Linked DNA regions of Homo sapiens. The protein of the gene in region 3 interacts with the protein of the main gene of each other region in a pairwise test. Each region holds a gene or a part of one and is shown on either strand. Other genes may lie near its edges.

Region 1 (3,186 bases), on a different chromosome or scaffold from region 3:
AAGGATACAAGATATAGAATCAAGGGTTACTCTTAGAATTTTTGCTTTATAAAACAGATGGATGGTGAATGAGATAGGGAAGACTGAGAAAAGAACAGGATAGAGACATGATTTTATTTTATAGTGACAAAGAGGCTAAAAACAACTGAGAGAACTTCAGTATATTTAGTTGTAGTTGCTTTGTGAGTCAGGGCAGTTGCATTTGGAATTCCCTCCCAGATTATGTTTTCCAAAGGGAAATCAAACCCAATTAATAAATCTGTGTCTCCATTTCAGGTCAAAGGAAAAATGATAATGAATTCATTGAGCCTCTTTGCTGCCATTTCTGGAATGATTCTTTCAATCATGGACATACTTAATATTAAAATTTCCCATTTTTTAAAAATGGAGAGTCTGAATTTTATTAGAGCTCACACACCATATATTAACATATACAACTGTGAACCAGCTAATCCCTCTGAGAAAAACTCCCCATCTACCCAATACTGTTACAGCATACAATCTCTGTTCTTGGTAAGTGTTCTTGGTAAGTGTGAGATTGGATTTCTCTCCAGGGAGGAAGGATGACTTGTTTATTATGAGCATGAACTCTGGATCCAGACCACCTGAGTTTGCTAGTTACTGTCTGTGTGGCTTTGGGAAAGAATTTTAACCACACTGTGCCTCAATTTCTTCAACTGTAAAATGGGGATGGTAACACTATTTATCTAATAGGGTTGTTCTGAGGAATAAATAAGTTAATATATACAAAGCATTTAGAACAGTGTTTGGTACACAGAAGTGCTATATAAGCATTGGCTTTAACATTAATTATTCTCAACATCATTAATGGCATTAATATTTACCATTATATTAACTAAGATGAGCATAGAAGAAATTCCTAAGATGTTATGAATATCTTTTGCCCAAGGACTTTTAAATGTAGAGTTTGAAAGAGATAAAAAAAAATGCATCTCCCAAGGATGAAGAGGTCTCCTAGGCATGATGCCACACCAACTAAGGCTGAATACAATTTAATTTGAGACTCATTACTTATTCTTTCCTATACAGAATTGATTCTTCAACTGATTATTCATACCTTACTTTCTATCAGCAATACACATTAACCATCTGTTGTGTGCCAAAAGTTGTGTTAAGAGTTAGGGTTATAAAGATGCTGTCTCCTGTACTAGCAGTTCTCACAGCTATTCATTACTTGTCTAAAGAATTGATCTCTTAATCGTTCAATTATAGTCAACAATAACTTACTGAACACCAACAATGTTCTTTGTGCCATTATTACATTTTCACCTTCATTCTTCTGTTGTTTTTCAGGGCATTTTGTCAGTGATGCTGATCTTTGCCTTCTTCCAGGAACTTGTAATAGCTGGCATCGTTGAGAATGAATGGAAAAGAACGTGCTCCAGACCCAAATCTGTAAGTAGTAGCCCCTCTGGCCAAAACCTCCCTCTAGAAAATCCACATCCACAAAGGATCATTTATGGAGAATGTAATCTGATGAGTTGTTGAAACTAGGAGCTTGATTTAAAAAAAAAAATTGGTCTTGGCATATTTCTAGAAAGCAAATAATATGATGTCTTGAAATTTGAAATAAGTCTGTAGTTAGAGCCTACAGTTCTATATTCTGTGCGTCTTTTTTTTTTTTTTTTTTGAGACAGAGTCTCACTTTGTTGCCCAGGCTAGAGTGCAATGGCGCGATCTTGGCCCAGTGCAACCTCTGCCTCCGGGTTCAGGCGATTCTCCTGCCTCACCCTCCCGAGTAGCTGGGATTACAGGCACCCGCCATCATGCCTGGCCAATTTTTGTATTTTTGTAGAGACGGGGGTTCACCATGTTGGCCAGGCCAGTCTTGAACTCCCGACCTCAGGTGATCCTCCCACCTCAGCCTCCGAAAGTGCTGGGATTGCAGGCGTGAGCCACCATGCCCCACCTCTGTGCATCTTCTTATTAACCTTCCCTGCTGCTTGACTTCAGGCTTCCATCCTGATTTCATGATTCCATATACAGTGTGTAAAAGCAAGATGGTTGAAGGTTGAAGGCTAAGTCACTAGTTCTTTGGTTTCATTTTTCAGTATTCCCCTCTTCCCTCCTTTTCACCTAATTCCTCTTCCAAAACAACAGGTTAAAGGGCTCCACAAATGGGAAATAAAAACAGACCAATAATAGATATATTACTAACTGCTTCAGAACCAGACTGTTAGATTTAGAATTTAGAAATCATCGCTAATTACTTCATTTTGCATTTAAAGAAAAATAGTATCAAAGAGAGAAAATTATTCTCCCAGAGTTATATTCACTAAAGGCAAATCAGAACGAAAATCTAAACTCCTCTATTACTGCAATGTTCTTTTCCCAATACCACGTGGTCATTCCAGGCACTGTGGTCAATGTCTGCTGCCCTTGAAGATTTATTCAGACTTGAGTTTTAATAAATGACTTGATAAGGATATAAGCACCTGCAAAAAAATTTTGGCATTTAAAGGCATATAATAAATGACATAAGTAGCATAAAAACCAGGAGGTATTTGATAAATGTTTGTGGAGATTGTTGACAAAGGTGTCAGTGGTAAAAGTAAAGAATGGTTTGTTTAATTTTCTGTTTTAGAACATAGTTCTCCTGTCAGCAGAAGAAAAAAAAGAACAGACTATTGAAATAAAAGAAGAAGTGGTTGGGCTAACTGAAACATCTTCCCAACCAAAGAATGAAGAAGACATTGAAATTATTCCAATCCAAGAAGAGGAAGAAGAAGAAACAGAGACGAACTTTCCAGAACCTCCCCAAGATCAGGAATCCTCACCAATAGAAAATGACAGCTCTCCTTAAGTGATTTCTTCTGTTTTCTGTTTCCTTTTTTAAACATTAGTGTTCATAGCTTCCAAGAGACATGCTGACTTTCATTTCTTGAGGTACTCTGCACATACGCACCACATCTCTATCTGGCCTTTGCATGGAGTGACCATAGCTCCTTCTCTCTTACATTGAATGTAGAGAATGTAGCCATTGTAGCAGCTTGTGTTGTCACGCTTCTTCTTTTGAGCAACTTTCTTACACTGAAGAAAGGCAGAATGAGTGCTTCAGAATGTGATTTCCTACTAACCTGTTCCTTGGATAGGCTTTTTAGTATAGTATTTTTTTTTGTCATTTTCTCCATCAACAACCAGGGAGACTGCACCTGATGGAAAAGA
Region 2 (3,983 bases), on a different chromosome or scaffold from region 3:
GCAGCACGATGCTGCCGTCAATGGAGCGCCACTCGCACTGCCGGCCTGCGGGCAGCACCTAGGGTTAGGGCTGGGGGCTTGGCTGACCGGGCTCAGAAGCACCCTCCCTCCACTCGGACCCCAGCACCAGCCAGTCTCTCCTCTCTGGAGCCCGCACCTCCCTACCCACCCAGGTGACCCCCAGCCCTTCTCTGGGGACTCCACAAAGAATGTCCCTCAGGTGCACAGGGTGGAACCAAGAGCCTGGGGCCTGAGCTACTTGCCTGAGAGCCCGGGACACAGCCAGATTAGAACCTGGGCAGTCTGACCCCAGCTAAGCCATGCCCCCACCTCATGCAAGGCCCCCTAACCTGAAACACACAGAAGGGGGCTATTGCGCTCTCCTTGGGAAACCCCACACCAGGCCCTCACCTCATTTATCCCTGCGCCCGTGGCCTCTCTGAAATCCTGTTTTCTCGGGGCTGGGCCCCCTCCCAACTCTGACAGGGCCCCTGAGTTCTCAACATCTTCTTGCTCCACTTCCCCTTTCTTGCTGGCTGGCCCTGGCTTGGATGCTGGGCGCTGAGGATGGCCAAGGGCGGCCCGCCAGCCCTCCTGGCACTGCCTGCTCACCCTGGACCATCTCAAGCTGAAGGGCAGCACACTTCCACCTGGCTTGTGCTGCAGCTGTTGCTAGACCAGCTTCGCTTGTCAATCAACAGTTCTGCTCATCCGCTCCATGCCACCTGCCCACAATCCCCAGGCCCTGGAAGACCCCGGTAGCTGGGGCTGGGACAGGGGGAGGCCTGCGACCAATAGAACAGAGGGAGGGCAGGGACCGAGTCCTCTGAGAGGTGGCCTGGAGGTTCCGGAAGCTGCTCTGGCCCAGACCTGTGAATGTTTGCTGCCAGCAGCCCTGTGGCAACACTGCTCCATGTGGTTCTTCTTAGGGCCCTGTCAACACTCATGCAGGTCCTGAACTGCGTGCGCCCACAGGGGCTTCACCTCTAGCTCTGGGGCAGGTATCTGGTAAGCCCCACACCTCTAGCTGGGAGGGGCTGGGTCTCTATGTCTGCCTCTTCATCAATCTGAATCCAGGGCATTGCTCAAAGAGGTCACTGGGGAGAGGTTGGAGCCTTGAGCTCTGGAATCAGGCTGTCTGGATTCCAATCCTTAGCCATGGATTGGAAGTGACCTGGGCAAGTGGGTTCACTTCTGAGCCTCTGTCCCTTCTCTACAAAGCAGGGCCCCGAGAGCTGACCCAGCCAGCTTCCTCCTCTGTGGTGTGGGGAAGGCAAGCCACCCCGTGTGGTGCAGGATGGGGTGGAGGGACCAACGCAGTAACACGCACGGAGCGCTCCGCCTGGGGTCTGGTCAGGCTGAGCACTGGGCAAACTGCCATCAACTGTGGCTGAGGATGCCAGCAGTCCCTGTGCTCGGGAAGGGAGCACTCGGTACATGGGCAGCTTGCCGGGCCAAAGAGGGTGTGAAATGAGGATGACACTGAGGATGGGGAGTAAGCGTGGTAGGAGCAGTATCTGCCCATGAGTGCACAGGAAACCCGAGCTGGCAGTCAGACTATCGCCTCATTATGGTAAATAAACACCTACATGCCGCACATCCTGGGACCTGCGACCCAGTGAACGCTCACATGCTGTCCGAGGTGCCCAGTGGGCCAGGGCTGTGATTAGTGGTGCCAGGCATTTGAAGACACTGTGCTGCTGAGGCCTGGTACACAGGTGGGCTGTTGCGATGGGAGCTGTTCTTGGACTCAGGGTCCCCCTTCCCCACTGTGGGCCAGGCTAGGGCCTCACCTTTCTCGGAGGGAGGCTGCAGGATCAGCGTGTGGGCCTTTTCAATGAAGTGCAGCTCCTGGGCCACGTGGCATGCAGTGAGCGGGTTGTCTCCCGTGATCATGACCACCTTGGGTAAAGAGGGGCAGAGGCTCAGCATGGCACCCTGGGGCCAAGCTCTAGGCCAGAGACAAGGCTGCCAAGTCTCCTTCTAAGGTAGGCCACAGTGGGAGATCCTGGGCCTCTAACCGAGATGCTGAATGGGCTTCCAAGGGCCACAACCCACCCCCACCCAGGTCATTTTACACAAATGACACGTGTATGTGCGTCCTTCTGAAGACACCCTTAGCTTGGATTTGCAATACAAATGAACAACCTGCCCCTGAGGTGGACCCTTTTGGCTTGGTAGCTGCCCATGGGGGTAATATTTCAGCAAAGAGGAGGATGGGACCATGACCTCTGGGCTTGGTGGGGACTAATCACATCACCCATGTGACCCAGAGCCATCATCCTCTGAGACGGCTCACTCACCCCTTACACCCTAAAAGACACCCTAAGTCCCAAAATAGAAAACACAAGCCACCAGAAGCCACCAGGACAGGCAGACAGTGCCCCCCACCCAACTCCCCAGCCTCAGCTTCCTTCTCTCCAGGACGGCGGTGGAACGGGGAAGTGGAGAGAAGTGCCCCCATCTTCCCATGATGCGGGGAGTGAAGGGAGTGGTCTGTGGAGGAGAGAGGAGCCAGCACAGGCGGGTCCCAGAGTGTCCTTGGGCCAGTGGCAATGTTAGCACCTGAGCTATGATCTTGCTCAGCTAAAACATGCAGCCTGTGAGACTTGGGTGCCCACCCCTACCACGAAGCTGTAATTGTCATCTCCTCGCCTCTATTTCCCATGCAGAGGGTGGAGCCGAGCACCGTCCCATACCCGGTGGGACGCATTCTGGATCTCCCGGATCACGGCCTTGGAGTCAGCCTTGAGCGGGCAGGAGACCACAATGAAGCCGACGAACTTGAGGCTGCACTCCAGGGCCTCCCGCTTGACCTCCCGGGCCTGCGGACAGACAGGGGCACCCTCACCATCTGTCCCTCCCTCTGCCCACACTCTGCATTTCCTGAGCTCTGACCATGCGCTGGGAGCCAAGGGGACAATGGAAGGCCCTGTTCCCGTAGTGGGCACATGCGAGGGTTGGGAGGGGAGAAATGCCAGGAGGGTACCAGGCACGCTTGAGGGGTGGGATCTGGCAGTGACTGGGGGGTCTGGGTCCCCCGAATGTGGCTCTATGTCCTGCTTGCGGACATGGGCACATCACAGAGTCCCTTGTGGCTCAGCTTCCAAGTCAATGAAGTAGGGACTCTCCCAATAATGTTGGAGTTTAGCCAGGAACTCTTACTCACTGGGGCTCCACCACATACCACAGACTGGGCACAGACCCCTGGCCTTAGGGAGCTCACACTGCACCAGGGGAGACGCATGATCAAGAAAGTCACAGAAATCGGAGTGCTGAGTGCCATGAGAGAGGAGGTGAGAATGGAATCCAGAGAGGGTGGAAAGGCCTCAGAAGTGGCCACTATGAAGGCGATGAGGACCTGTGTCACTGGGAAGGGGGCTCCAGGTGCAGGAACGGGGCAGAGCATGCAGGCTGTGAGCTGTGGCCTGGGCTCTGCACACAGTACTGCAACCTGAGGCTAAATTCTGGAAGGATCCGCAGCTGTAGGGTGCAAGCAGAAAGAACGAGAGCCCAGGAAGAAGCCAAGCGGCAGATGTGCCGGTGGTGGAGGCGGAGGGTGGGCTTTGTGGAGGATGGATGGGTGAGAGGGCTGAGGATGCCACCTAGCCCTGCCCAAGACCAGGGCAAAAGAGTAGAGCTAGGGACACACCAGGACTGGGGCAGGTAAGCCCTGCGTGTGCTCTGCGTGAGCCAGGACTGGGTGGGTCCCCACAGCAGTGGACAGACTGAGTGCCATTTGGAGTCTCCAAAGGTAGAAGCTGGAGGCGGGGCAAGGAGGACAAAATCACAACCATTCAACCTGGCACTGTGGGACACAGGAGGTGACTCAGGGAGGAGCTGACGGGCCAGGCACATGGTGAAGGCAGGGGGAGCCTGGGCCCGTACCTGCTGGTGAGTGAGGTGTCCCAGCTCCTTGTACCCCAGCGCCAGGACGCGGGCTCCTTCCCGGGAGATCTCGGTGTGGATGTGGTGGTAGTCGG
Region 3 (3,146 bases):
AGGGACAGTCTTAAATTTACACATACCTGTTTATCATTTTGGAGGACGCAATTCTCTAAAATGCACACTGGAAAGTACAAAGTGCATGGAGTGCACATGCACTTTGAAAGGTTGCATCCTATGTTGCACAATGAAAAACCCTATAATTTCATTCAGAGTAGACCTGCATAGTTTCCAATGATGTTGTTATCACCCAAGATATTTCTGAAAGTTCTTTTGGGAACTTCCTTCATATTCAATTTGCAGGTCACTCAAGAAAGTAGGTTTGTCCCCTTATTATTAGACATCATTTTGGGTTTAAAACCGTATTTCCGGGCTTGATCATCCACCTTGTTTACCAGCTTTGTTTCAAATGACTCTTGGCAATTTCCAGAATTGATCCTAAAATGGATAAAATCCCTATCTGTAATCAAGGTATTTGAGACAAATATGTATGACAAGTTCTCATGAGTTTCAAAGTATGTGGAACAATGACAGTATTGTAGGAATGTGTATATAAGTTCCAAAAATACTTGACTTTTAAATAATATCCATTTTGCAGGAGTCCTGAATAGCCTCACGTAACACTTCACTGAAAGTCTGCTATCCAGAGATGTGTCAAAAGCAGTAACTGTGCTTGGCTGAGTTTGTAATAATCAAAGTGTTAATCAGCTGTCCCCAAGCTTCCTAGCTACTGATACGAAATCTAAAAAGATGGGCTGGGTGCAGTGGCTCACACCTGTAATCCCAGCACTTTGGAAGGCCAAGGCAGGAGGACCGCTAAGAGTCCAGGAGTAAGACCAGCCTGGGCAACATAGTAAGACCCTGTCTCTAATGTTAATAATTTTAAAAAAATTTAAAGAAAGGAATCCAAAAAGAAGATAAAGGTCTTTCATATTCCTTTCCACTTCCAGTGTTTTATTGCAATGTTTCCCACCTCCAATTTCTACCTGTGCTTCCCCACCTCTGTTCCTCTCTATCCCCAACTCTTCTAATTGCCTTTTCTTGTCTTCATTCCCAGGGAGGGATGATCATCATTCTCTTGTGCAGTGTGGCCGTCACAGTTCTCTCTGCCATCAATGTGGGGAAGAGCATCATGTTTGCCATGACACCACTCTTGATTGCCACCTCCTCCCTGATGCCTTTTATTGGCTTTCTGCTGGGTTATGTTCTCTCTGCTCTCTTCTGCCTCAATGGACGGTAGGTATTTTTTTTTTTTTTAAGAAAGGGTCTCACTCTGTTGCCCAGGCTGGAGGGGAGTAGCACATTCTCAGCTCACTGCAGCCTCAACCTCCAGGGTTTAACTGATCCTCCTGCCTCAGCCCCCCAAGTAACTGGGACTATAGGCACAAGCCACCATGACCAGCTGATTTAACTTTTCTGGAGACAGGGTTTTACCATGTTGCCCAGGCTAGTTTTGAACTAATGAGCTCAAGTGATCCACCTGCCTCAGCCTTCCAAAGTGCTAGGATTACAGGTGTGAGCCACTGCATGCCTGGAGATAGGTATTATTTTAGGTCCCACTGTCCCATGGGCTTCATTCTTGTCCTAGTCTTTCAGGAAACGAATAAGAAGCTAGGAACCTGAAATCTGGGCAAGACACTTTCCTGGCAATATGTTCAGATGCACTAACTGGACAAGAGACTTTAGACTTGAAAAAAATTGAATGAAGGTATTGAACGGGTTAAAAATCCAGACACCAAAGGTATCCAAACACCAGCAGCAATAGCAAAGTACCCCTGTCCAGGGTCTAGATTCCATCTGCTGCGAAACTCTTTGGTAGCAGCACTGGGACAAAGTTGCTCCCTCCAGTTCCCTCTGAGTGTATGTGGGGTTTTCTTCACCGGCACAGGTGCAGACGCACTGTCAGCATGGAGACTGGATGCCAAAATGTCCAACTCTGTTCCACCATCCTCAATGTGGCCTTTCCACCTGAAGTCATTGGACCACTTTTCTTCTTTCCCCTCCTCTACATGATTTTCCAGCTTGGAGAAGGGCTTCTCCTCATTGCCATATTTTGGTGCTATGAGAAATTCAAGACTCCCAAGGGTGAGTACTGAAATTATCCCCACTTCAAGTTCTGCTCCAATATTAGACCTGAGCCTGCCAACAAGCAAGTTTCTAGCAGGGACTTTTTGGATAGGGCTTTAACTCTTATCAAGTCACTAAGAACCAGGTAGCCCCAAGAAGCACCCAAGAAGCATTAAAGATCCAAGACTACTTCCATCAACTGCACTCCATTTCTTCCTTCTAGCTGGGAGAATGAAATTGCAGATGCAGTTTACCTCATAAAACTGAAGCAATTTGGGCTGCTTTGTCTCAGTGGGGAGACATCATAGGACAAAACTGCCTTGGACAACTGAGGTTATTAGTTGTGTGAAAGGCCTCTATTCGCAAGAGTTGGGGAAGTTTCCATTTCTCAGGACTAGGTTCTCATTTCCTGGAACCAGATCAGAGCCACAGCACCACTGGCACCTCCGTATGAGGAAAAACATATGAAAGCAATGCACCCTAATATAACCCAGAATAAAGAAAAAAAAAAAAGATTCCTCAACTCTAGTTACGCAGTAAAGGAAACTTAAGCATACGGTTGTTAAACAGTAACTACCTCCACAATAAACTTAATATGATTTATACTTTACTCTGATCACTATGGGGTTAACATAGCATCTCTTCTCTAAAATGCTCAGAGTATTACCTTTCAAAATAAAATTGAACCTCAAGACAGACCAGAGAACAGAGTGCCTTCCTCAAAGTGCACTTTAACACCAATTTTAAAAAAAAAAAAAAAAAAAAAAAAAAACAGGACATTCAAACCCACTTTATAACACATTTCATTATAACTCTCAACATTAGTATATTCTTCCTAAGTACCTACCCAAATCCTTCAACTGTCCCTTCATGTCCATGAATTGAAGTCCCCTTCAAAACCTTTCTAGACCCTAGGGACTGTGATTTACACCCTAGGAGAAATACACAACTTTCCCTATTGGAATTTGTTACATTATACTAGCAAGCAAATGCCGATTCTCTCTCCCTTTGCAATTAGCTAAGATGTAATTAGGTTGCCAAGCAGCCAACACGAAACAAGTACAGGCTGACCATACACTAGAACCATTTTAGAAGCTTTGGTTCAAAGCTACAGTAGAGTTGTGAGAAAGAATCTA
Region 4 (3,501 bases), on a different chromosome or scaffold from region 3:
TGAACACACCCTTACCTTCTCCAACCCTTCTTCCACTCTAGCTTGGGTCCTCTGGGCTCTGGAGGATTTGTGCCTTTCGGCTTCGAGGGAATTCTCCGTGGAGCAGCGACCTGTTTCTATGCATTTGTTGGTTTCGACTGTATTGCTACCACTGGTAACACAGTCATTCCATTCTGTTTGGGGCTTGGGCACAGTGTGTGCCCAGGCTGTATGCAGACTGGGGGTGGTAGAGGAGTGGGCCTGCTTCCCTAATTTAGAACCTTACGCCCTTCCTTCAGGAGAAGAAGCCCAGAATCCCCAGCGTTCCATCCCGATGGGCATTGTGATCTCACTGTCTGTCTGCTTTTTGGCGTATTTTGCTGTCTCTTCTGCACTCACCCTGATGATGCCTTACTACCAGCTTCAGCCTGAGAGCCCTTTGCCTGAGGCATTTCTCTACATTGGATGGGCTCCTGCCCGCTATGTTGTGGCTGTTGGCTCCCTCTGTGCTCTTTCTACCAGGTCAGTATCAAATGTTTGTTTTCTTCTGCTGTCAGAGTCTCAGGTTATAGCATTCAGTACCAGAGAATACCCCTTAAAAGGGCTGTGAGGGGAAAGTGGAGACTCTTTAAACATACAGTCTTGGGAAGAGAGATCCCAGTCAACTCATGCCACCCTGGGCATTCTCCTCTCCAGCCTCCTGGGCTCCATGTTCCCCATGCCTCGGGTGATCTACGCGATGGCAGAGGATGGCCTCCTGTTCCGTGTACTTGCTCGGATCCACACCGGCACACGCACCCCAATCATAGCCACCGTGGTCTCTGGCATTATTGCAGGTAACAGACCCTCTTTCCCCTTCCCTTAGTTGTTTCGCCAACTTCTTTAACTTTGCCACTCCCTTCTCTCATTTCTTGTTTCCTGCCTATTAATTTTAGCATTCATGGCATTCCTCTTCAAACTCACTGATCTTGTGGACCTCATGTCAATTGGGACCCTGCTTGCTTACTCCCTGGTGTCGATTTGTGTTCTCATCCTCAGGTGAGACTCTTCCTCTGCATACTGTGATTTGGATTTTTATTCTTGGATGAGGAATGATGGAGATCTGCTCCTCTTTCCTCCTTCGCCTTCATTATTCCAACTTTCTTTGAGGAATCTGGGTATCTCACCCTGCCAAAAAGAACTTCCCTTAATGGTGATGAGGAAGGTTAAGCTGCCTGGGAGAAGATGATAAAGTGAGTAAAGGTTGTTCTTAATACTGCCATCTTACTTTTGCCTCAGGTATCAACCTGATCAGGAGACAAAGACTGGGGAAGAAGTGGAGTTGCAGGAGGAGGCAATAACTACTGAATCAGAGAAGTTGACCCTATGGGGACTATTTTTCCCACTCAACTCCATCCCCACTCCACTCTCTGGCCAAATTGTCTATGTTTGTTCCTCATTGCTTGGTGAGCAGTGGAATTTTTCTGGGGTGGCTCTGAGATCAGCGTGATTGGGTCGAAGTGTGTGGCATTTGGTGGCTGAGGAAGAACTAGAGAGAGAGCGACTCTCCTTGGAACAGGGTTTCTAATGTCTTAGCATGTTGGTCTTAAGAGTTGGTTTTGATGTCTCTCAACTTGACCTTTGAAGCTGTCCTGCTGACTGCTCTTTGCCTGGTGCTGGCCCAGTGGTCAGTTCCATTGCTTTCTGGAGACCTGCTGTGGACTGCAGTGGTTGTGCTGCTCCTGCTGCTCATTATTGGGATCATTGTGGTCATCTGGAGACAGCCACAGAGTTCCACTCCCCTTCACTTTAAGGTAAATGAACTCTGTCTTTTTTCCTTGCCAGCCCATCTTGGGAGAATAGGCTCCAGATATCTTGAGGTCTAATAAAGTTCATAGATATTCTTTAATTGAACATGAAAGGGAAGATATAGGAGGTACCTAGGCCAAAGACTTCTTCTCTGACCCTCTTTAGTTCCTTTCCAGTTCCATTTACCCAAACTGCATATTCTTGGAGTCTCATGAGGTATGCTAAATGAGCAGCTACTGAAATGCAGAGGACAAGTAAGAGTTGGACTCACCCTTTTCTGGCCTGCATAGGATAGGGATCTCTTTCTAGGTCAACCTGTGGTATGTACAAAGAAGATTTTACTTTGTTTTCAGGTGCCTGCTTTGCCTCTCCTCCCACTAATGAGCATCTTTGTGAATATTTACCTTATGATGCAGATGACAGCTGGTACCTGGGCCCGATTTGGGGTCTGGATGCTGATTGGTAGGTATCCACTTGGGAAGAGTAGGCTTCTTTGGTGTCCTAGCCCAGCTCCTTTCCCTCTTGGTCTCAAGTAGGAAACCTATGAAGCCTTTACACCCCCACCTCACAGCTACCTTTCCCCACTAGGCTTTGCTATCTACTTCGGCTATGGGATCCAGCACAGCCTGGAAGAGATTAAGAGTAACCAACCCTCACGCAAGTCTAGAGCCAAAACTGTAGACCTTGATCCCGGCACTCTCTATGTCCACTCAGTTTGACATCGTCACACCTAAATGCTGTCTGGTCCCCTGCACAATAATGGAGAGTACTCCTGACCCCAGTGACAGCTAGCCCTCCCCTGTGATGGTGGTGGTGGATACTAATACAGTTCTGTACGATGTGAAGGATGTGTCTTTGCTATTTCTTGTCTATTTTAACCCGTCTGCTTCTAAATGATGTCTAGCTGCTTACCAACTTTAAAAAATGATATTAAAAGAAAGTAGAAAAATAAACTGTGTCCTGTTTTTTGCTTGCTAAAGATGTAGAGCCTGACTTTTAAGAGTGAAGAGCCTCAGAGAAGTGTCCTTTGTGTTTTCTTCAGTTACCACAAAAGCATCTGCTGTGCCTGTGGGTGCTTCTTGTTGAATCAGGGTTTGAGGAGGGTGGTGTAAGTAGGTAGCCATCCAGTCCAGTCACACTTAAAGGAATGGTCTTGAGATATGTTTTCCCCTCATTACACTTAAGGTTAGGTTCTGGATAAGTAGACAGCAACACTTGTCTCTGGGATTTGGGGTGGACTCTGATAGCAACACTGACATTGGTTAGGGCCTACACTGAAACTATTGGCTTCTGTTCCACCTCTTCTAGTTGGACCAGTCCCACACTCCTGTAACTGCCTGAGCATCAGAAATTTTGGCTGCGGTGTTTGGCACTGCTGGGAGGAGGGGTGGATAGTCAGGGGGTTTGGTAAGGGACCACATATATTAATATATGGATACTGTTTGCTGCAGAAGTAGTAGGAAAATAGAGGTCAGAGCTCTGCTCAGAACGAGAACTATTCATTCATCCATTTATTCAACAAACATAGGTGAAGCTCCTATAAAACGTTAGGTCCTGTGGTGGGTGCTGGGGATACAAATGTGAATAAAACATAATCCCCACCCTTAAGGAACTCACAATCTTGTGGAGGAGACAAGCAGGTAAATATGACTACAAAACAGTGTGATTTGTACCAGGGCAGTGCAGAGTGCTGTGGAAGCACAAAGAAGGACATGCTTGAACTGAGTCTGCAGT

Evidence for each region. Proteins that work in one complex are often made in the same cells at the same time.
Region 1: the proteins of SLC10A1 (region 3) and MS4A1 interact in binary tests that used the Homo sapiens proteins (3 or more experiments, as listed by UniProt).
Region 2: the proteins of SLC10A1 (region 3) and ATP13A1 interact in a two-hybrid assay, tested with the Homo sapiens proteins (one large-scale study listed by BioGRID).
Region 4: the proteins of SLC10A1 (region 3) and SLC7A3 interact in binary tests that used the Homo sapiens proteins (3 or more experiments, as listed by UniProt).

Annotation. Positions count from the first base shown.
Region 1 is NC_000011.10:60,465,645-60,468,830, forward strand, and holds part of MS4A1 (B-lymphocyte antigen CD20), read left to right. Parts: intron 1-276; coding exon 277-513; intron 514-1,314; coding exon 1,315-1,416; intron 1,417-2,605; coding exon 2,606-2,824; 3' UTR 2,825-3,186. UniProt on the Homo sapiens protein: B-lymphocyte-specific membrane protein that plays a role in the regulation of cellular calcium influx necessary for the development, differentiation, and activation of B-lymphocytes.
Region 2 is NC_000019.10:19,649,896-19,653,878, forward strand, and holds part of ATP13A1 (endoplasmic reticulum transmembrane helix translocase), read right to left. Parts: coding exon 3,889-3,983; intron 2,826-3,888; coding exon 2,700-2,825; intron 1,903-2,699; coding exon 1,794-1,902; intron 46-1,793; coding exon 1-45. UniProt on the Homo sapiens protein: Endoplasmic reticulum translocase required to remove mitochondrial transmembrane proteins mistargeted to the endoplasmic reticulum.
Region 3 is NC_000014.9:69,777,215-69,780,360, reverse strand, and holds part of SLC10A1 (hepatic sodium/bile acid cotransporter), read left to right. Parts: intron 1-1,000; coding exon 1,001-1,179; intron 1,180-1,831; coding exon 1,832-2,028; intron 2,029-3,146. UniProt on the Homo sapiens protein: As a major transporter of conjugated bile salts from plasma into the hepatocyte, it plays a key role in the enterohepatic circulation of bile salts necessary for the solubilization and absorption of dietary fat and fat-soluble vitamins.
Region 4 is NC_000023.11:70,924,798-70,928,298, reverse strand, and holds the end of SLC7A3 (cationic amino acid transporter 3), read left to right. Parts: intron 1-41; coding exon 42-154; intron 155-278; coding exon 279-501; intron 502-675; coding exon 676-815; intron 816-914; coding exon 915-1,017; intron 1,018-1,257; coding exon 1,258-1,424; intron 1,425-1,605; coding exon 1,606-1,772; intron 1,773-2,120; coding exon 2,121-2,229; intron 2,230-2,355; coding exon 2,356-2,486; 3' UTR 2,487-2,720; downstream 2,721-3,501. UniProt on the Homo sapiens protein: Uniporter that mediates the uptake of cationic L-amino acids such as L-arginine, L-lysine and L-ornithine. The transport is sodium ions- and pH-independent, moderately trans-stimulated and is mediated by passive diffusion.